Linked DNA regions of Homo sapiens. The protein of the gene in region 1 binds, or shares a complex with, the protein of each later gene. Links are inferred from orthologs where the notes say so. Each region holds a gene or a part of one and is shown in the gene's direction. Other genes may lie near its edges.

Region 1 (7,021 bases):
GAATTAAAAGGAAACTTTCAGCACAATTCGTGTCTCTGAGTTATCCTTTTTCATGTATTTCTTTTATTTGTACCCAAAATAATACACTCTCATGGGAACATGGTAACAATGTGATTTCTTGGCAGTTCTCCAGATTCTCTTGTAATTGTGTAGATCCACTGTTGGTCACTGTTTGTATGGTCAGGGGTGTGAAAGTAAAGGAAAATGTATAAAACATTTAATAATTTCTTTATGCTAGGAACAATGCAAAACATTTCTCAAATTCCTGTAACATGTTTTTATCAATAATTTTATGTAACATTAATAGCCCTTTATATAATCCACAAATATTAGTTATTTACCTACTTGTGTGCTTTGGTGACAAAGCTGTAGAAATATTGTGCTAATTTTCATTATTAGATATTAATTTATGTAATGTACATATTGGTCATAATATGCTTTATTTCATCCAGCTTGTATACCCCTAAAAGAAGATTCACTGATGAAAATTTTTTAAATAAATAGACTGGTAGAGAACACTGATCAGTATCCCCTAATAAATCCACTTTATCCTCGGATGGTTTCTATCATGTAAACATAGGATTAAACTCTTAGCACAAATAAAATGGAATGTTTTCGTCTCTACATTCAGGTGCGAAATAGTTTTTTAAAAATACCTTTATAGCCCTGTTTCTAAATACATCTCATCCATTGGTGGTCCCCAAATATCAGTGTATATTGAAATAGTCACAGGAAAAAAAATCACATATGATTAGATTGACAATTATTGTTTATTCCTAATATCTTTAATATTTTTATAAAATGCTATAATGATATTCAAGAGACTTTAGTGATTTCAGTTAATATGTATGTTTGAAAATAGCTTTTTGTAACATATCAGTGGAAAAATCTATTCATTATTTTATTCTAACTTGGTAATATCTAATTATGTTTTTTAGCTCTTCTCACAGACAGTTTTATCATCTTATCATTTTTGGCACAAAACAAACTATGTTTTATTCAGTTTACCAAGAAGATGGAGTCTTCTGATGTAAACAAAAGACTGGAAAAACTCTCAGCCTTGGATTATAAGGTAGAGATTTTGATTTATATAGTCATATTATTAATTATTAAGGTATATGAGAGTATCACATAAGTTGGTATTCTGCTCATTATTCTTCAACATTTCTGGATTTCAGAAAAACTGGAAATATTACAGGATTAAGCTTAATTAACTGTAAACAGTGGCCATCCTAAGTTTTCTTTTATACTCTCACTATGGGGGGTTGTCTAACAATGGCACGTTTGGAGCAATTTATATAGTATTTATAGACATCAAAGACAGATAATAGAGGCAAGTTACACTTTTGAAAATGGTTTTCGTGCCAGTGGTAGTATATATACCATTCTCATTTTCCCCTAAGACCCCATATCATCTTTCTAGGGTAGGATAGCTTTCTAGGGTAGGATACTTTCCACTTCACAAGAAAAGAAAGATGAAGGCACTTTGAAAGGTTAATAGAAAAGTGTAATAAACAAGGAGGGGGAAGAACCCTCCCCCTCCAGCTATAACTGGACAAAATGCAAAAAGAAATCTTCATGTGTTAGTATCTCACCCTTCACTAATTCCAGGTAATTTGTTTCCTTCCTGTATCAGGAGCTTTACATCTATTAAGGCAGAATTTTTATTTTAAGTGATGTGTTTAATTTGAGTTTTGCCACATTACATTTTAACTGCTGGGAAGGCATATTCTCTGCTAGGATGAGTAATACATTTTCCAGGCTGTTTCAGTTCAAGGCCTCTTTTCAACAGTGACTTGTGTTTGCAAGATTGATCCAACCTCTATGATGTGGATTTGAGACAGTTCACTGTTCACTGGGAACAGAGCTGATATACAGCTTCCTTAAAAAAGATGCACACTTATGCCATACCTAGAGCATCTGTAGCAAGAGCAAAGAGTTTGAGAAGCTAGCTCTGTAGCTTGAAATGTGTGTGTGTTTTTGGCAAAGTAGTATTTAACCTAACCTTTTGCCCTTTGGGATTATTACTTATGAATGAGGTGGTGGTAGCATGGGAGGATTTAGTTTTATTTAGTAGGAACATTTATTCTTAAAAAAAGATTTTTAATGTGGAATAAAATAAATGAGTTTTTCATTGTGGTGATAAACTACCATCTAGTTTCGTTTGCCAGCTTTGTGAAACTTCTATAAAACCTTAATATAGATTTTTTAAAACTGGAAATTAGTGCTACTTATTATATTTGGTTAGCCAAAACAAAAATGGTATTAGCATTCTTAAAGGGATGTTAGTTCTAGAATGGCTAACTTCAGATTTACTTGAAATACTGTTTATTTACTAAAATTGATCGGTCTTTAAAATGCACCAGTGTGCATTAACTCAAACCATTTAAAGTAAGTATATATAAAATTCTGGATGAGTAGTTTCTTTATCTTAGGTGTGATAGCTTGATAAAATCTTCTCAACTGAAGAGTAGTAGCTACCTGAGAACAGAGAGAAACTGTCAAGATGTCATCTTTTCTTATGAAAAGATGAGGAAAAGACATCTAGCGTTTGGGTCCTTAAACCTTAAGTAAGGGAATTACTTACTTGCTTATTCGAATATGCCTTTGGATTTAGGAAAATAGGAACATTGGCACTCCATGTCATTCCTATACATTAGAGAAGTAATCTGTTTCCCTTCGGAAAACTCATTAATTTCATTTCCTGGTTTAATATTTAAAATGTATATTTTTAATACTTAGTCAAATCTGCTATTTGTCCATTGGAAGGATATTTTAAGAAATTTGTTTATTTTACATTCCCTCTTGGTCATCATGACAGAATACTGATAATATTAAACTCATAGGAAACATGAAATTTCCTAACATTTCATAACGTAAGTGATTTGCATTATGTGACAACTGAAAATGTCAGTCACTCATTGTGACTCAATTTCCTCATCTAGAAATTCATAGGTAACACACTTATGCAGCAAATCAGACATTGAAATAATGTATGTGTATTTTTAAGTACTTAGCAATTTCATCGTGGTATTTCTCTCAAATAAGAAGACTTAATGATATTGAGAGCTTAAATATAAGAAATTACACTTAATAGCATAAAGTACATCTGTGTTGTCTGTCATTGCCCATTTGGATTTTAAAACAAGGAAGTGGTATAGAGTATTGTACTTTTGCTTTTCTTTACAGCTGTACCATAGTTTAATTCTTTCAGATTGACATAATTTTGGCAAAGAAAATTGCAGAGTAAACATCCTTAAACTATTGACCTTTAACAAGTTTTCCTGTCTACATCTGAAAAAAATCCAATTCAATTTATTTAACAGTGAAGGGACACTGTGAGGAGTTAAATGTTTACCATGAGAGAACAACACTGGTAATTACTTTGATTTCAGTTCCTTTTGATGTGCATTCAGAGGATGAAGAGGTCAATAATATTATGGCCATGCAAATAGAAAAGGGTTCCTTTTGACCATATTGAAAAAAAATAGCAGAGGATTATTAAAGCATTAACCTTGGTTTTAATGGCCTTGGTTGAGTGGTGAGATCACAATTTGGATGAGCCTGATTATTTACTAAATACAATACATAAATGCAACGGGTTCTTAACACCCGTTGCACTCTGGCATTATCGCATTACTGCCATCCTTTGTTGCCTTGCAGACAGGAATATGAAAGCAATCTGTCATGTAGTGAGACTGGCTCCAGAAGCATTTCTCTGATAAGAAGACCCCCTGCCCTTTGCTAGTGTCTGGTCCAGTAGGCTTAGCCATGCGCTTAATCCCCAGAAAGTGGTTCGATTATTGCTGACCAGCAATGGCAAGATAGTTTTTTTTTTCTTCCAAGCTATCAACCTTCCATTAATTCCTTAAGCAGAAATACGGTGCAATCTATATTTCCTTGGCATGTGTCACACAGATGGTGCCGTGCTTATGTTTTCAAATAACCATGTTCCAAAATAACATAGTTTGAATAATAAATTCTACAAATCCTGCCTAAGAAAGAGAAGCATAATTCTCAGAAGCTGCATAAACTTTTATGCATGATGCTGTGGCTTATCCCTTTTATGCAGAATATATGTGTATACGTCGCATATATTCTTTAAAGAGATATTTGCCTCAAGTTGTTTTTCCTTTTTTTGTTGTCAGTCATTGTTAACACGTTATGTCTTAAACAGTAGTGAGACTCTCTTGGTCAGCAGTACTGAACTTGTCATTTTATACAGCTGGTCCTAAATCATATGTGTAGGTCGATGCTGTCAGGCAACCATGACTGTACATTTTGGTATTGATTGGAATTGCTACATTCAATTTCTTCCTAGCTCACATTTCTCCTTTTCCTTCCTTTGCTAAAAATGGGGAGAATTTTGAACATATGTCTTTTTTATATATGTGTCAGAAGAATTTGGTAAATTCTGACACCTTCTTACGCACATGTTTAACATGCATATTTACTTGCATGTAACTACATTTCCAGATGCTTTAATTTTTGTAATACTTGAGGATTTTGCATCTTTTAAAAGAAATGTTTCATGTATGCTTTTTTAAAATTGTTAGATTTTCTATTATGAAATACCCGGCCCAATAAACAAGACAACAGAGCGACATCTAGCTATCAACTGTGTTCATGATAGAGTTGTTTGCTGGTGGCCACTGGTCAACGATGATGCTTGGCCTTGGGCCCCCATTTCTTCTGAGAAGGACAGAGCCAATCTACTCCTCCTGGGTTATGCTCAAGGAAGACTAGAGGTAAATCTAAAACAAATATGTACATTTTAATAAAGTGTAAATAAAATAGAATTATTAGATTTTCTATTCTGAAATAAATGTGAATATTTTTTACCTATAATTTATGTTTTTCAAATATTCAAAAAGTATCATATCTAGAAGATACCCAGACAATTCCAGGGCTGGCTAGAATAGTGTAGTAATTAAGAGTCCAGGCTTCCAGGTTCAAATGCTAGCTCTGCCACTATGTAGCTTCCTGTCCTTGACCAAGTTACTAACTTGTATGTGCTATAGTTTCATTATTTGAAAAATACAGTTCATGATGATAAATGAGTTAATACATGCATTTAGAGCAATATCAATGTATAGTAAGCCCTGAATCACTGTTCACTGTTATGACTCTTGTTATTATCATTATTAGTTCTATTATTACTGTTTACTCATGATATCATGCCTGTGAAAGCTTTTATTACCAATTACTCTCTTCAGACTTCAGTCAATTAACAAACATTAGTTAAATGCCTATATTGTGTAAGGCCCTGTCGTGCCAGACCGCATTTGGCGCAAGGATATTTAAGGAGAGCTATAGATTATGAGGTGAGGACAGTATCCTCTATCAATTCATGATAATGGTTTGATCATCCATTCATATATGTGAACCTATGTGTATTTTCAGTTTGTACTAGTACTTTGGTTACAGAATTCTCTGTTTTGTTGTATTATAGCTGTAAAAAAAGCTCCCTCTCCCCCACTTTCTTATGTAGGTAAAATAGTATGTTCCTATATTTGCCTCTAAATCAGTTATCTTTTAGACTTTAAGGAGTATTTCCCAGAATTAGTATTCGAGATAAGATGAATACTCTAAGCTTCTGCCTGCTTCTAGCTAATTCTGTGTTCTGTGCCTTTGAGTAGATCACCTACCCTATCTGACTTTAGTTTTCTTATTTTTAAAACGATTGATTTAATTCAGTTAGGTCACCTCGAGGTCTCTAACAGGTCTAAAAAGTGCTTCTATGGATCCTGAAGCACAGATCTGATTTAGACATTGCCTGCTTAAAAGTCTTCTGTAGATGCTAAAACCAAACTCAGCCTCAGCACTAAAAAACCCACCCTGATTGCCCTTGGCCTGCCTTTCCAGTGTTGTTTCCTTACATAAACCATGTCTTAGTCAAATGAATTTACTTGCTGACTCATTATTTCCTACCTCTGCATGTGCACATTAATGGTATTTCTACTTGAAATAGCCATGTCATTTAGCAACTACATATCCCCTGGTATGAAAAACACTGTATTTCATACCAGGGGATATGAATAAGAAACTGTCCCTGCCTTCAAGGATCTTAGTGTCTGCCAATAAGAGACAAATATGAAAATGTGTAAGTGCATTAAAGTGTTAATGGTGCTGTGGGTAGAGTATGTGTAAGCTATAGTGGGACCCAACAGAAAGTGGTGATCGATTCTACTTAGAGAGATGTTAAGTAGGGAAGATTGAAGAGGCTTCCCAATGTGCTTAAATATGAGCTTGGCACACAATTTTACTTTTTAAAATTATCCTTTCTTATCTCACCTTTCTAGAGTTGATATTATTAGCTCTGTGGAACGATTTGGCTAGCTTTTTCCTTTTCTCCTCTCTGTAACAGTACCAAAAGGAATTGATACTTGAAAGTTTGATAAAACTTACCTGTAAAACTTCCTGGGTGTGACGTCTTTTAAGGAGGGTAGATTTTTTTCATTACTGATTCCATTTTTAAAGGGTTGTTTTTTTCCTTTTTTTTCCACAATTGGTGTTTATAGAAAATTATTCATTTTATGCATTTGAATATTTTTTCATAAAGTTGTATGCAAATTTCTACATGATTCTTTATTCACCACTGATTGTATAATTTCCTCCCTTTTGATCTTATTAAGATATATAATTCATTTTTTTCTCAAGAGCTTTTGTTTTAGGAATTGGCCCTTTTAGTTATTCTAGCAACTGGAAAAATTTGTAAAGATTTCTTTTTTAGAGCTTCATGTGAAAGTCATTATGCAAAAAGTATAATCTTGTAGAAGAAATTTCTAGGGCATTAATTGTTTTTCTTGTGTGTGTGTGTGTGTGAAGACATAATCTTTAAATACGAAGTATAGAATTTTTTTTAGAATATCGTGAACCAAAAGTACCAGTCTATTAAAGTAGTATTCAGGCATATTCCTTTAATTTTTTTTTTTTTTCAGTAGCAGCCAAGGGACTTCTTGGACTAATCATCAGAATAAAGATACAATATGCTCTTAAACCCTAAAATTCAAACTAAAAA
Region 2 (7,021 bases), on another chromosome or scaffold:
TAACTTACGATGTAACATGGAATAAACCATTTAATTCTGAATTGGTGTTCAATTGTTTGTAGAATTGGAGAAAAAAATTTAAAAGAAGCTACACAGTTTGGACTTTGTTCTCTATTTAAGGAGGTGCCATGCAAGGTTTATGAGGCAGGGTATGAAACTACTAGATGCTTACAAAAAAAAATTGATGAAAAATTTGTAGGAAGAAAATGTGATATTTTCCTAAAATTTGTAAATGTCCTTTTTTAATTTCTTATTTTATTTTTTACTTCCAATAAGTTGCTTTTAAAACAAGGAAAGGTTAACTTATTAAAGAGGTAACTAAAGCACTTTTTATTTTGAAATGGAATCTTAAATCATTTCTAATGTTTAAGATTGTGGTGAAAGTAAGCATATATATTTTACCATGAAACTCAAAATAATGAGTATAGGGACTCCAGCTTTTTAAAATAATATTGTTTCTCTGATTTTAAAAGTAATACATTTTTTGTTGGATCTCAATGCTAATGGAAATATTTGTTTCCCTTCCTTCCTGTCTCCACTTTCTTCAAACTTCCGACCCCATTACTTCCTCCATCACGTTCAGCTGGCAAGGTTGCAGCCTACTTACCAGACGATAAACACTGTCACATGGAGACTGCCTCAGCTTCCTGCCTGAAACTGGCAAGTCACCATCCACACCAGCACCCTTCTTTGGCTCTTTCTTCTAGTTTTAGGGAAGAGGTGTCCAGGGAGGTCATATCCCTCCTTCTGTGCCTTGGATGCTATCCCCTCCTACCACCTCAAGGACCTCCTGTTACCAGAAAGGGGTCCCAATCCAGACCCCAAGAGAGTTCTTGGACCTTACCCAAGAAAGAATTCGGGGCAAGTTCATAGAGTAAATTGAACGCAAGTTTATTAAGAAAGTAAAGGAAAAAAGAAGGGCTACTCCATAGGCAAAGCAGCGGCATGGGCTGCTTGACTGAGTATACTTATAGTTATTTCTTGATTATATGCTAAACAAGGGGTGGATTATTCATGAGTTTTCTGGGAAAGGGGGAGTAGTACCCAGAACTGAGGGGTCTTCCCTTTTTTAGAATATATTAGATAACTTCCTGACATTGCCATGGCGTTTGTAAACTGTCATGATGCTGATGGGAGTGTCTTTTAGCAACTAATGCTCATTATCCTCACTGCTCACTGTACTCTAATTATGATTCGCGTATAGTGAGCAGTGAGGATGACCAGAGGTCACTTTTGTAGCCATCTTGGTTTTGGTAAGTTTTGGCTGGCTTCTTTACCGCAGCCTGTTTTATCAGCAAGGTCTTTGTGACCTGTATCTTGTGCCGACCTCCTATCTTGTCCTGTGACTAAGAATGCCTAACCTCCTGAGTAGCAGCCCAGTAGGTCTCAGCCTTATTTTACCCAGCCCCTATTCAAGATGGAGTCGCTCTGGTTCAAATGCCTCTGACACTCCTTTTGCCCATTACCCCTTTACAAACTCCTCCTCCTGTTCTTCAACTTTAGTAACATATAGACCTCTTTTAAGGAAAAACTATTGTGGATTTCCATGGATGACTTAAGTTTTTTAATTATAATTTTAAATAAATGAGGTATAATCTGTGCTTTATAGCTCCTATATAAGATGAAAACAATTTTATGAATTAATACAAATAAATTACAAAATGTAATCGCTGTTATAACACTATAAAAACACATTTAGAAATTAAAACAAAACCATAAAACCTAGGAAATTCAAATGTATATAGTTTAATGTACATTTGTACATGTAATATACAAATTCAAATGTACATAGTTTAATGTATATTTGTACATGTAATGTACAGTTAATGTAAATACAACTAAACTTCAGCTTAAAAGTATAAGCTGCATACTGCAGCTTGTTTGGCTGTGAGGAAGGTAAAATATACTATCCTGGCCATTTAAGTTTAATACACTTGAAAAACAGCAAGTGCCTTTGTGCTGCTTCTTAAAAGCAACAGATGAAGCTCCCATGTGAAAGACACCCTCCCTATACTAGAAAAATGTAACATTCTTATTCTCAAGGGCATAGAAGTGAAACCAAGAGAATTCTGTACAGACCTTGTTAAAATAACTTATCTTTTAAGCTTCCCAATTTAGTTTAGTTGCTTCTTCACAACTAACTATTCTTTGTCCAATCCAGTATATAAGTTAACTGACTCTAACTGCTTCTTTGGGTCTTCATTTCTTTATGAGGGCTCCCCTGCCATGTAAAACTTGGATTCTAGAGCAAGGAGAGAGGTCTGTCTGCCAGGCTCAAATTTGCGAGGTGGGAGTGGGTTCCAGCCTATTCAGGGAATGGCCAGTTGGCCTGTATAGATGAAGCACAGAACTGAGAGAAAATTTAGGGCAGTTCCCCAAGTTTGCTGAATCACAGGGGGCACTTGTTTGAAATAGAGATTTCCAGGCCCCTCCACTGGAGATTCTGATCCTGTTGATGTGGAGCAGGGCCTCAACATCTGTATAACAAGTTCCAGTTGCTTTTCTTTTGTTAATCTATTTTAGGTAAGTTTAATTCTCAGGCCCAGCTGGGACCCTAAGAAGATGGAGGTAGAGTTTTTCTGCCCCTGCAACAGCTACAATTCAGGTTCCTTTGAGTTCTCCATGCATATACCCATACCGGCCATGTGATGACTCATCTCCCATTACTCTTTCTCTGTTGGAACCATGCCATAATAACAATATAAATTAATACTTCCTCTAAGAAATTTGTCATGGCCCCACGTATACTACTTTGGTTTTTTCTGGATATTCCATTAGAACCTTGTATTTATTGTAATACTTATCACTATGTTATAATTGCCCATTAGAGAATCCCCAGCACCCAGCCTTTTAGATCATAAAATAACATTATATCCTTTTTTTACACGCTGCAACATGAACATTTCCCCCATGCTTTACTCTTTGAACACATTCTAGTTAAAATCATAATCATCATATTTTATATATATTTAACTTTTCCCCCATTATTTGACATTTTAAGATTGCTTTCAGCTTTTCACTTTTACAAATTTTATAAATTTGCATCCTTTCTCAGAGTAGATATCTAATAGTTGAATTACTGGGTTCTGAGGGAGGAAATTTCATGTAATGGTTATTGACTTAGGTTCATTTCTTGGTTGACTTTGTTGACTGCTAGCCATGTAACCATTAGTAAGATGCATAACTTCTCTAAAGCTTAGTTTCCTTATTTAATATAGAGAAAATATTTACTTCATAGTATGTGAATGCTCAGCATTGTATATGAATAAAGTGAGCAGAGCCAAGGCTGACTCTCAATCAATGCTAGCTGTTATTTTTGTACTTAAAAAATACTTGATATAGGTATTCATAAATAACAGGTAGATTTTACCTGTTTACACTTCCAACTTTAATAATGAGAACACTTAATTAGATTATAAAATTTTGAGTTAGAAAATGAACATGAAGTTGATTCCACAGGATTGCCACTCATTTGTGGCACTCTACAATACCCACTTGGGATAACCGTGAAAATGTTTGCAATTGCGAAACAATATGAAACCCATAAAACAATGGAGCGTATTTACATTAACACCTAGATCGCGTTGCTTAAAAGCGTCCATTACTTGCACGGATGAGGTCCTAAGGAAAGGTAAAGTGCGGTTTCCTTCACCTCGAAGGAAATCCAGGCTGACCGACAGCTGTTAGGCATTAGAAACACAGGACAAAGAGCAAACTGGATATCCAGCACTGGAAGAAAAAGGTGAGAAGCCCAGTGCATCTCCGCCTGTTTTAACAGGTTATGCTGCTCTAAGGAATTGCGTTCCGGAGAGCGTAAGCGGTGAAGTTTTAGCTATTTCTATCCTTCCAACTGAGAAGCCCTCCTGGAAGTTTCAGCCCATTGGCTGCTTTCTGTTCTCCCTGTTTCTTCTGGGAAGCTTCTCCGTCTCCCTGGCAACGCGACCTGCCACCAATTGCAGCTAAGGATTGGTGGTCACATGGCCTCTGCCCCTTCCCAAGCAGAGGCAACATGGCGGCCTTAGCAAGCTATAGCTGCGAGATTTGAATTACTCCACTCGTAGCTATTGCATTCCTGACGATGGCCTCTGTGGCTTCGTGCGATTCGCGTCCGAGCTCAGACGAGCTCCCTGGAGACCCCTCTTCACAAGAAGAAGATGAGGACTATGATTTTGAAGATCGGGTCAGCGACTCGGGTTCATATTCCTCAGCGAGTAGCGATTATGAGTAAGGTTTTCAAAGAGGGACAATTAATCCCATCCCATCAATCCAGAGAATATACACGTGGGCTGGGGGAACTGCAAGGGTGTTGGCGTGGTTGGAATCGAGTATTTGGGGTTCTATAATAAGTGGGATTTAATTGCACCACGTTCCATTGTATGGTGGTGTGAGCAGAAATGACGATGCCATTCTTTGCTACTGTAGGTTGTTTTTTGTTTGTTTTGTTTTGTTTTTTCAATGATTCTTAGATGAGGAGAATCTCCTCTTTTTGGTCATGGGCTCTGTCTAGGCCATAGGAGGATATATCTGTAACAGCGTTCAAAAAACTCTGTTTCGATCGCAGTGTCTTGATTCTTTGGTGTGACCTTTGTGGCTTAATCTCTTTAGTATTTGGAGTGGAGAGACACCCTACGCGTTTTATAAGGCAGTTGTTAAATTTATGTAGATTTTTTCTGTTATGGAAATGAATAGCTATATAACAGAAGGAACGCCCACCCATAGTCTCACCATCAAGGACAACCTCTCAGCACTTCTGGATATTTCTGCTGTATTTTCCTATGCATCTCCATGATTTTCTTGTTTTCCATTTTACGTCATAATTTAATTTTTAAAAATACAGATACCTAAAGGTTTCACTTTCTTAATAATGCCATGAAAAGGTTATTTTGATTCACAGTATTCAGTGCTACTTCATTTTTAAGAAAAATCTACCCCTTACTGCTATGGATTAAGAACTTTAGAAAAGTCAACTAGCAGTAGCTTGAAGAGAATGACTAATCGTGAAAAAGTTTTGGTGCCAAAATGTCAACTAACCCAGTAATGGACAACCATACCTGGTCAGTTTTAGGATGACATTTTATGTGTATTTAGGAACAACAGTTACAAATCATTTATATGTATGTAGGAGCAACTGTTATTTGGCAATTGTTTTTACCTATCAGTATGTAAAAGATTTTTATCATTGCCTTTAAAAGTATGGTGGGGAAACCTGTTTAATACATTCTTGAAGACTTAAACAAATTTTAAAATATCGTATTTTTTTGTAATCTGCTGTAGGCATTAAAAAAATAATTTTAAAATTCATGATTATTACACAAGGCTGCTGGAAGGAAATATGAATTACATAGAACCTTATTTGGTCTTGGTATGTGAAGCCATAGACAGTGTAAGACTCAAACTCTTGGCTTCTCCACATTTTAGAGTCGCATACTTTTAGCCCAGAAAGAATCTATGATTCATGTATAGTTGCACAGCTGAGTGTTGTCAGTGTGAGAATTCAAGACGCCTGATACCTAATGGGCCACCATGACTTTGATGGGATTAAAATAGTGAACTTTGTTTCCTAGGAAATGACCAATCTGAGGACCTTGTGATAGGAGAACTTGTCACTTAAAAGAATAAAAGTATTTCATGATTCAAAATACATGTATGTATGTTATATTTTAGCTTTTAAAAAATGATCATTAAGCTTTTCACATGTCACTAATCACGCCACATGTTCTAGTGTCTTTATCCTCCTAATAATAAAAGTATAGAAAATCCCTATCATAAGATGTTTTGCTGGTCTGTATTTCAAGTCCTACCAAGTTTCAAATTTTAAGTCTGTCCCTTCTTGATTTGTAGGACATGAGGGTTAATTTGCTGAACTTACCAGGAAGGCTTATGTTCGGTTCTTCCCTTATGGTAGATGTTTACTTCCCTAAGCTGCAGTCATCATTACAAACAGTGGCCTTCCCAACTTGTACAGAACCACTCTTTAATCAAAGGCACAGGAATGCCAACCTTAGTCTTTCTCATTAAAGCAAAGACATGAATTTCCTATTGTATTTCATGGACTACGTGAAGCTTACTAAGGAAGTTGTACTGCATATTGACTCACATAAAGTATCCTGAATTTTCAAGGTTTTAGTTAACTGCGTGTTCTTTTTAGAAGTTACTGTTTCATACATGCTTTGTACCTGAGCTGTATGTGATTGTCAATATAGAATTTAAAAGTTTATCATCTTGGAGATAAAATTACATTATGGTAAATTCTGGTAGAGTTCTTTTAATAGGTTTGTTTTAGGTTTGTTAGAGAATAAGAGTTTATATTGCTGCAGTATGTCTTAAGTTGACACATGGGCACATACCCTGGGAGGCTTCCGAGATAATACTGGTGGGTTGGTTGGGTTGAGGGAGCCATTAGCTAGTTTTAGCATTAAGATAACAGAAATCACACATTCACCTGCAACAATGCCAAGTTACCAGCTAATATGCCTAGTTCATGTTACAGAGAGTTTGTCAATGTTGTGACTTGGATTTTTAATTTTTCAAAGTGAATTTTTTGTTGTTGTTACATCAGTTTTAAAACTGGCTGATGGAGAGAAACAGGAATCATTTTAAATGAGATATTAGCTGTTAAAGCTAAGGAACTTCCACCTAAAACACAAGGATTGGCTGGAGAAGGGAGGTATGTCCTTTAAATTTTTTTCTGGGACTTTAAAAATAGCTTCATTGAAGGATAATTTATATACAAAAAACTGCACATATTTTTAATGTACAATTTGATGTTTTAACATGTATACGTCTGTCAAGAAAATGAACATATCCATCTCGCCTAAGAGTCTCCCCATGTACCTACTTAAGTCCATTTATGCCTCTCCTGATAACCATTTATCTGCTTTTTGTCACTCTATAGGAGTTTGTAGTTTCTAAAGTTTCATAAAGATGGAATTGTGCAGTATGAATGTTCTTTTTTGTCTGCCTTCTTTTATTCAGCATAATTACTTTGAGATTCATCCATGTTGTTGCCCCCATTAATAGT
Region 3 (7,937 bases), on another chromosome or scaffold:
GGCACGCGCTGAGGCTTCGTTCTAGCTCCATCCTCCTTCGCCCCCACCGCGTGGAAGACTCAGAAAGGGCATAGTTAGCCCTTCTAGGGGCCTGATGGGTTAGACGGAATTATTGTCAAAAGCTAAATAAATTGAAAGCGGCTCAGTCAGCCGCCATCTTTGAGCGGGGCGTCCAGGTCCGCCTCTTGTCTCAAAGGGAGGGGCAGGAGACCTGGTTGCTATGCAACGCGTACGCTGCCCTTGTTTTCGTTTTTGTGTTTTGTTTTTTGTTTGTTTGTTTTTTCGAAACGGGAGTCTCGCCCTGTCGCCCAGGCTGGAGTGCAGTGGCGCGATCTCGGCTCACTACAACCTCCGCTTCCCGGGTTCAAGCGATTCTCCTGCCTCAGCCTCCCGAGTAGCTGGGATTACAGGTGCCCGCAACCACGCCCCGCTAATTTTTGTATTTTTAGTAGAGAAAGAGTTTCACCCTGTGGGCCAGGCTGTTCTCGAACTCCTGACCTCAAGTGATTCGCCCGCCTTGGCTTCCCAAAGTGCTGAGATTACAGGCGTGAGCCACCGCGCCGGGCCCGCTGCCCTTGTTTTGTAACCGTTAGATTAAGTTTCTGGTTCTGTTCTTTCGGGCGTGGGGACTAGGGGAGGGACGCGAGAAGGATCCAATCACATCGGCGGAAACGAGGTTACTAGGCGACGCTTTAAGGTCGTCCTCAACTTGGAAGGGAGGGCAGTTGTTTTCCCCCCCGAAAAGAAGCCGAACACCAAACCAAGTGCGGGTTGCTAAGCAACACCTGAGCGTTGTTTTCTGGGAGAGGAGCCAGAAACTGGCTTAGAACGTAAATACATTCCAGGTGGATTAAAAATGTAAGTGCAACAAATGAAACCCGAAAACTATCTGAAGGGAAAAAATCTTAATGACTGCCATGGAGTTTCTTAGCACTACAGCAAAGTTAGAAAACGTAGTCTTCATTAATTTTTCCCAAAAGACTGTATAAACCAAGTTGAAAAATATACGGCCAACTGGGAAAATCTTTCTAGCGTGTTTGTTGACAGAAATGTACTACGCAAATAAATCTTACTGATGAATAACAATATAGAAAAATAGAAACACTTCATTACTATTATCTTTTAATTTTAATTTTTATTTTTTGAGGCAGGGTCTCTTTCTGTTGTGCAGGTTGAAGTGCAGTGGCCCAATCTTGGCTCACGGCAGCCTCTACTCGCACTGGAGCCACTCTTCAGCCTGTGGAGCAGCTGGGACCACAGCCGCGCACTACCACTTCCAGCTAATTTTTAAATTTTTTGTAGAGATGGGGTCTCACTGTGTTGCTCTGGCGTGTCTCAAACTCCTCGGCTAAAGCGATCCCAGGTGTTAGCCATCGTGCCCTGCCACTTTATATTTGTTTTAATAGAAAGAAACCTGACCAGGGCCGGACGCCGTGGCTCACGCTTGTAATCCCAGCACTTTGGGAGGCCAAGGCGGGCAGATCACCCGAGGTAAGGGGTTCAAGACCAGCCTGGCCAACATGGTGAAACTCCTTCTAACTACTAAAAATAAAAAAATTAGCCGTCCTGGTGGGCGTCTGTAATCCCAGCTACTTGGGAGGCTGAGTCAGGAGATTCTCCTGAACCCGGGAGGCGGAGGTTGCAGTCAACTGAGATTGTGCCACTGCATTCCAGCCTGGGCGGCAGAGTTAGACTCCGTCTCAAAAAAAATAAAAATAAATAAATAAAAAGAAACCTGACTAGTTTCACACAAACACACACACAAAATTTTGAATGGCCAGTAAATATTTTAAAACATAATCTTCGGCCGGGCGAGATGGCTCATGCCTGTAATTCCAGCACTTTGGGAGGTAGAGGCGGGCGCATCACGAGGTCAGTATCACTGGGCGTCGTGGTGCCCACCTGTAATCCCAGCAACTCGAGAGGCTGAGGCAAGGAGAATCGCTTGAACCCGGGAGGCAGAGGTTGCAGTGAGCCGAGATCACGCCACTGCACTCCAGCCTGGGCGACAGAGCGAGACTGTCTCAAAAAAAAAACAAAAAAAACAAAAAAAACAGGCCGGGCGCAGTGGCTCATGCTTGCAATCCCAGCACTTTGGGAGGCCAAGGCGGGCAGATCACGAGGTCAGGAGATCGAGACCATCCTTGCTAACACGGTGAAACCCCGTCTCTACTGAAAATCCAAAAAAAAAAAAAAAAAAATTAGCGGGGCGTGGTGGCGGGCGCCTGTAGTCCCAGCTACTCCGGAGGCTGAGGCAGGAGAATGGCGTGAACCCGGAAGGCGGAGCTTGCAGTGAACAGAGATCGCGCCACTGCACTCCAGCCTGGGGGACGGAGCGAGGCGCTGTCTCAAAAAAAAAAAAGTAATAATAATAATAATAATCACCAATTGAAAAGTACTTACAGAAAGCCTAATGATAAAGGTTTTTACCTTTATCATTTAAAATTATTTTTTATTGGGTTTCTATTTTTCTTTTATCTTTTATTTTTATTTTTATTTTTTTTTATTTTATTATTTTTTTTTTGACAAAATCTCGCTCTGTCGCCCAGACTGGAGTGCAGTGGCGCAGTGTCGGCTCGCTGCAGCCTCTGCCTCCCTGGTTCCACCGATTCTCCTGCCTCTGCCTCCCCAGTAGCTGGGACTACAGGTGTGTGCCACCTCGCAGGCAAATTTTTGTATTTTTGTTAGAGACAGGGTTTTACCATGTTGGCCAGGCTGGTCTCAAACTCCTGACCTCAGGTGATCCACCCGTTTTGGCCTCCTAGAGTGCCCGGATTATAGGCAGTGAGCCTGCGGAAGCCCTTTTTTTTTTGAGACAGTCTCATTTGCTGAAGCTTTTTTTTTTTTTTTTTTTTTGAGATGGAGTTTTGTTCTTGTTGCCCAGGCTGCAGTGCAATGGCACAGTCTCGGCTCACGGCAGCCTCCACCTCCTGGGTTCAAGCGATTATCCTGCCTCAGCCTCCCGAGTAGCTGAGTTTACAGGCATGCGCCACCACGCCCAGCTAATTTTGTATTTTTAGTAGAGCCGGGGTTTCTCCATGTTGGTCAGGCTGGTCTCGAACTCCAGACCTCAGGTGACCCGCCCACCTTGGCCTCCCAAAGTGCTGGGATTACAGGCGTAAGCCGCCGCGCCTGGCCTGCTGAAGCCTTCAAATCCATACAATCATATGATTTTACTCCTGTGTGCTTGGCAGGCATCTTTCCAATTTTATGAACACTTTCTTACATTACTAGTATGCCATTGTTACCTGTAACAAAATTAACTTCTTAGTATCATCCAACAGTAAGTGTGTAATCAAACGTTCCAATTGTCTCAAAATGTGTTTTTACAGTTGGTTTATTTGTATCAGGATCCAAACAAAGACCACACACATATTTAGACATTATGTCTCAAGTTTCTTTTCATCTAGAGCAGCCCCCTCTTTTATGCCTGTGTAACTAACATTTTAATAAAGTTGTAAGGAAGATAAAAGTAATCCAGAGAAAGGAAAAAAAATATCAATAGGCAAGAAGGAAGATTAAAATGGTACCTAGGCCAGGCATGGTGGCTCCTGCCTGTAGTCCCAGCACTTTGAGAGGCTGAGGTGGGTGGATCATTTGAGCCAAAGAGTTTGAGACCAGCTTGGGCAACATGGCGACACCCTGTCTCCACAAAAACTACAAAAATTAGCTGGACGTGGTGGGGGCACACCTGTAATCCCAGCTACTCAGGAGGCTGAGGCAGGAGAATCGCTTGAATCCTGGAGGCGGAGGTTGCAGTTAGCCGAGATGGTTCCACTGCACTCCACCTTGGGCGACAGAACGAGACCCTGTCCCCTCTCCCAAAAAAAAAAAAAAGAGAAAAAGATGTACTTTAGGAAGTAGGAAAATTAAAAATTATGCTAGAAAGATGGGCTGATCTGCAAGAAGGAAGAGGAAGGGAAAAATGAATCATAAATACTTTTGTCATTACAAGTAAATGCTGCCTGTGTAAAATAATAAAAATATTCATAAGGGCATTTTAAAAAGTCAGTAAAATGCTGTCCCAGCACTAGTTGGCTAGTCTGGAGGAGTTCAACAACCTAATGTACATCAATACAGAATTGGTCAAATCAATTTGTCACATCCATAAAATAGATTATAAAAATACATTATTAAGATGAAATAGACATACTTTTTCATGGCAAAAAAGAAAGTGTGGAAATGTTAGTATATTGATCATCTTTGTGAAAACGTATGAATAGTCTACGTTAAACTGTATTTTAGGAAAAAAATTGGGGAAGGGATTTTTCACATTTTACATGGTATGCTATCATGTATAAATTCATTACAGAAATGATATTATTTTTATTATTCTGGAAAATAAAGGATTTCCTTGTTTTCTTTTTTCTAATAACAAAAACAACCTTTTTTTTAGTGGTTACTAGGCAACGATCGCTGGACTCAACCACCCTCGAAGGTTGTAGGGGAGATGGTGTTTTTCTCGATTTCGCCCCAAGGAGGGTGCTCGGACTTCGACGTGCCGCCATCTTTGAGCAGGGCACAGCTGTTTACAGCCTTGGAATGGATATCAGGCTGAATGGTGGTTGCTTGGCAACGCCCCGCCACGGTCGCCATCTTTGAGTAGGGCACATTGTTTACTACTATATACTGGAAACCTACAGGGAATGTGGTTGCTAGGCAATGCTTTGGGACCATCGCAATCTTTGATCCGGGCACAGCTGTTTTTTCCGTTTAGAATGTAAATCATCAAAGCCTACAGGATGGTGGCTAGGCAACGCCTTGGCGCAGTCATCATCTTCAATCCGGCTTCTTGGTTCTCTTTACCTCCTCGGAGAAACTAGAAAGCTTTGCAAATTCAATTTGCCGCCATCTTTGTTAGGGGTACCGTGACTTCCGGCTAGGGCGGAAGAGAACCTAATGGGTTTGGGGGAGGTGCCTGAATAGGGTTTGAGGGTCTGTTTGAGTTGGGTGAAGAAGGCGGGAAGTTAATCCTCTTCCAATCAGCTCCCCATCTCGCCCTCTGGCGGCTCCGGACCACAGGCCGAGTTACTCTGATTACCGCCATGCTCCAAGACCCGCACTGACAGTCCCCACGTGAGGGACCGCGGTGGGAGTCCTAAATGGGGGAGGAGGGGACGGGCGGCACTGTGCATCTGCTGTGCCTCGCGGCCTCCAGCGGGGTCCCCCTATTCTGCAGGAGCAGTCGCGGCGGCGCCCCCGCCCGTCAGCAGGTGGGGCCTTGGACGCCTGTATCTAAACCGAAGGGGGTTCGGTGTTTTGACTCTGGGTCTTCAAGGCAGTAGGGGCTGGGGAAGTTTCAGTGTTGAATTTGTAGGACCGAGGAGGCAATGGACCAATAAGCCTGGTTCCCCAAAGAGGCACTGCCAGGTCATATGGAAAGAGGATGGGGCTGGGAGCTGGCACACTTGGGTCCTAAGGGGGAAGGGGATGGGGGGGTGCTCTTGTCTGATGTCCCTAACCCCTCCTTAGCTCCCGTTCTCTGTCATCGGTTCCCTCAATGGAGTCCACATGTTTGGGCAGAATCTGGAGGTGCAGCTGAGCTCTGCGAGGACCGAGAACACGACTGTGGTGTGGAAAAGCTTCCATGACAGGTCCCCAGGAGGGAACGTGGGACAGGGACAGGGCCTGGGTGATAGTCCCTGTTGAAGATGACCCCGGAGGCCTTCCAGCTCTCTAAAAGCAGCTGTTAATTTGGCTATGGGATCTTTAGCAAGCCAGTTACCCTCTTTGATCCCTGATGTTCTCTATAAGAAAGGCAGGTTGGTCTGAGAGAGGATGTATCTGGTGTTCTAGGATCAATGGGCGGACTCCAACATACCCCTTCCTGATTCCCCAGGCCTTGACTCATTCTTCTCACTTCCATTCCACAGCATCACCCTCATTGTTCTGTCATCTGAGGTGGGCATCTCTGAGCTGAGGCTGGAGAGACTACTCCAAATGGTGTTTGGAGCCATGGTGAGACTCACCAGTCCTCTTTTCTCCCCAGACCAGGAATCTGAGATCTCAGCATCCTTTTCCCTCAGACCTAGGAGTGCAGACCACCAACACTTCCTTCCTCAGAACCCAGGAATCTTTTGTTTGTTTGTTTGTTTTGTTTTGAGACGGAGTCTCGCTCTGTTGCCCAGGCTGGAGTGCAGTGGCTTGATCTCGGCTCACTGCAACCTCTGCCTCCCAGGTTCAAGCGATTCTCGTGCCTCAGCTTCCCAAGTAGCTGGGATTACAGGCACGTGCCACCATGCCCAGCTAATTTTTGTATTTTTTGTAGAGACGGGGTTTCACCATATTGGCCAGGCTGGTCTCAAACTCCTGACCTCAAGTGATCCACCCACCTTGGCCTCCCAAAGTGCTGGAATTACAGGCATGAGCCTCCGCGCCCGGCCAGAACCCAGGAATCTTGACTCCCCAGTCCCCAGACCCAGAAGTGGGAGTCCCAGCCCCCTCTTCCTTCAGACCCAGGAGTTCAAGTCCCAGCCCCTCGCCCATCCTCTCCTATATGATTCTTCTAGGTCCTTCTTGTGGGACTTGAAGAACTGACCAATATCCGCAACGTGGAGAGACTGAAGAAGGACTTGAGGGTGAGGTTGCAGGACATGAGGGTGGGAAGTTAGGATACCTGGGCACTGCCATTTGGGAACTACAGTTCCCAGCAGCCCCTGGGGCAGCCTGGTCCCACAGGTTCTTGGTTGTCTGACCCTGGGCCCACTTGAATCCTAGGCTGGTCCCTTCTTCCTCTCCTAGGCCAGTTATTGCCTCATCGACAGCTTCCTGGGGGACTCGGAGCTCATCGGGGACCTGACCCAGTGTGTGGACTGCGTGATTCCTCCAGAGGGGTCCCTCTTGCAGGTACTGGGGATGCTATGGAAACTCTTACACCTGTTCTGCTGGCCCTGGCTCAGTCCTCATCCTCTTTCTTCTGGACCATTGTCCCAACCTCCTCCTATCCTCTCAGCTTCCAGTCCTATCCCCACCTGGTCCCAGAAGAATCTTTTTTCTTTTTTTTTTTTCTTTTCTTTCTCTTTCTTTTCTTTTTTCTTTTCTTTCTCTCTTTTTATTTGAGACGTAGTTTCACTCTTGTTGCCCAGGCTGGAGTACAATGGCACCATCTCGGCTCACTGCAGCCTGCGCCTCCCGGGTTCAAGTAATTCTCCTGCCTCAGCTTCCCGAGCAGCTGGGATTACAGGCGCCCACCACTACGCCCGGCTAATTTTTTGTATTTTTAGTAGAGACAGGGTTTCACCATGTTGGCCAAGCTGGTCTCGAACTTCTTACCTCAGGTGATCCACCTGCCTTGGCCTCCCACAGTGCTGGGATGACAGGCGTGAGCCACTGCGCCTGGGCCATCTTTCTTTCTTTTCTGAGACAGGGTCTTGCTCTGTCATCCAGGCTAGAGCACAGTGGCTCAGTCATAGCTCACTGCAGCCTTGAACTCCTGGATTCAAGTGATCCTCTCATCTCAGCCTCCCCAGTAGCTGACACTATAGGCACTGTGCCACCACATTCAGCTATTTTTTTTTTTTTTTTTTTTTTGAGACAGAGTCTTACACTGTCACAGGGGCTGGAGTGCAATGGCGCAATCTTGGCTCACTGCAACCTCTGCCTCCTGGGTTCAAACGATTCCCCTGCCTCAACCTCCCGAGTAGCTAGGATTATAAGCGCTGGTCACCACGCCTGGCCCAGCTAATTTTTTGTATTTTTAGTAGAGACAGGGTTTCACTATGTTGGCCAGGCTGGTCTTGAACGCCTGACCTCGTGATCCACCCGCCTCAGCCTCCCAAAGTGCTGGGATTACAGGCATGAGCCACCGCGCCCGGCTGACATTCAGCTATTTTTTTTTTTAAGAGATGGACTAGGGTTGGGGATGGGTTTCCATTAAGTTGCCCGGGCTGGTCTCGAACTCCTGGGCTCAAGCAGTCCTCCCGCCTCAGCCTCCCATA

The links.
Region 2: the proteins of WDPCP (region 1) and INTU are in contact, whole or in part, in a cryo-EM structure (PDB 7Q3E), measured with the Mus musculus proteins. The link is inferred for Homo sapiens from one-to-one orthologs. Residues at the interface, in NP_663400.2 of Mus musculus: Phe3, Cys4, Leu5, Ile24, Leu51, Ser54, Arg55, Asp56, Lys93, Leu385, Ala386, Glu387, Asp388, Tyr389, Ile427, Lys446, Leu447, Gly448, Ile449, Leu450, Thr451, Arg452, Gly453, Leu455, Leu462, Gln463, Ile465, His466, Tyr467, Gln487; in NP_780724.3 of Mus musculus: Val481, Gln484, Val488, Asp491, Ser495, Asp496, Glu498, Ala499, Ala500, Asp501, Ser506, Glu507, Asp508, Arg513, Arg514, Thr517, Ser532, His533, Leu534, Pro535, His574, Tyr593, Glu610, Gly613, Cys614, Ala615, Ser616, Lys617, Ser653, Pro654.
Region 3: the proteins of WDPCP (region 1) and FUZ are in contact, whole or in part, in a cryo-EM structure (PDB 7Q3D), measured with the Homo sapiens proteins. Residues at the interface, in NP_056994.3 of Homo sapiens: Arg55, Ile57, Asn75, Lys78, Leu82, Glu418, Asp419, Arg420, Leu421; in NP_079405.2 of Homo sapiens: His293, Glu372, Glu373, Pro374, Arg379, Gln397, Pro399, Thr400, His401, Gly402, Ser405, Leu406.

What each region holds. Positions count from the first base shown.
Region 1 is NC_000002.12:63,431,472-63,438,492, reverse strand, and holds part of WDPCP (WD repeat-containing and planar cell polarity effector protein fritz homolog), read left to right. Parts: intron 1-485; exon of another isoform or gene 486-609; coding exon of another isoform or gene 610-631; intron 632-938; coding exon 939-1,072; intron 1,073-4,556; coding exon 4,557-4,748; intron 4,749-7,021. UniProt on the Homo sapiens protein: Probable effector of the planar cell polarity signaling pathway which regulates the septin cytoskeleton in both ciliogenesis and collective cell movements.
Region 2 is NC_000004.12:127,628,957-127,635,977, forward strand, and holds the start of INTU (protein inturned), read left to right. Parts: upstream 1-4,000; 5' UTR 4,001-4,078; coding exon 4,079-4,224; intron 4,225-7,021. UniProt on the Homo sapiens protein: Plays a key role in ciliogenesis and embryonic development.
Region 3 is NC_000019.10:49,810,272-49,818,208, reverse strand, and holds the start of FUZ (protein fuzzy homolog), read left to right. Parts: upstream 1-4,916; 5' UTR 4,917-5,102; coding exon 5,103-5,213; intron 5,214-5,472; coding exon 5,473-5,594; exon of another isoform or gene 5,595-5,700; coding exon of another isoform or gene 5,701-5,762; intron 5,763-5,873; coding exon 5,874-5,958; intron 5,959-6,509; coding exon 6,510-6,578; intron 6,579-6,741; coding exon 6,742-6,846; exon of another isoform or gene 6,847-7,937. UniProt on the Homo sapiens protein: Probable planar cell polarity effector involved in cilium biogenesis. May regulate protein and membrane transport to the cilium.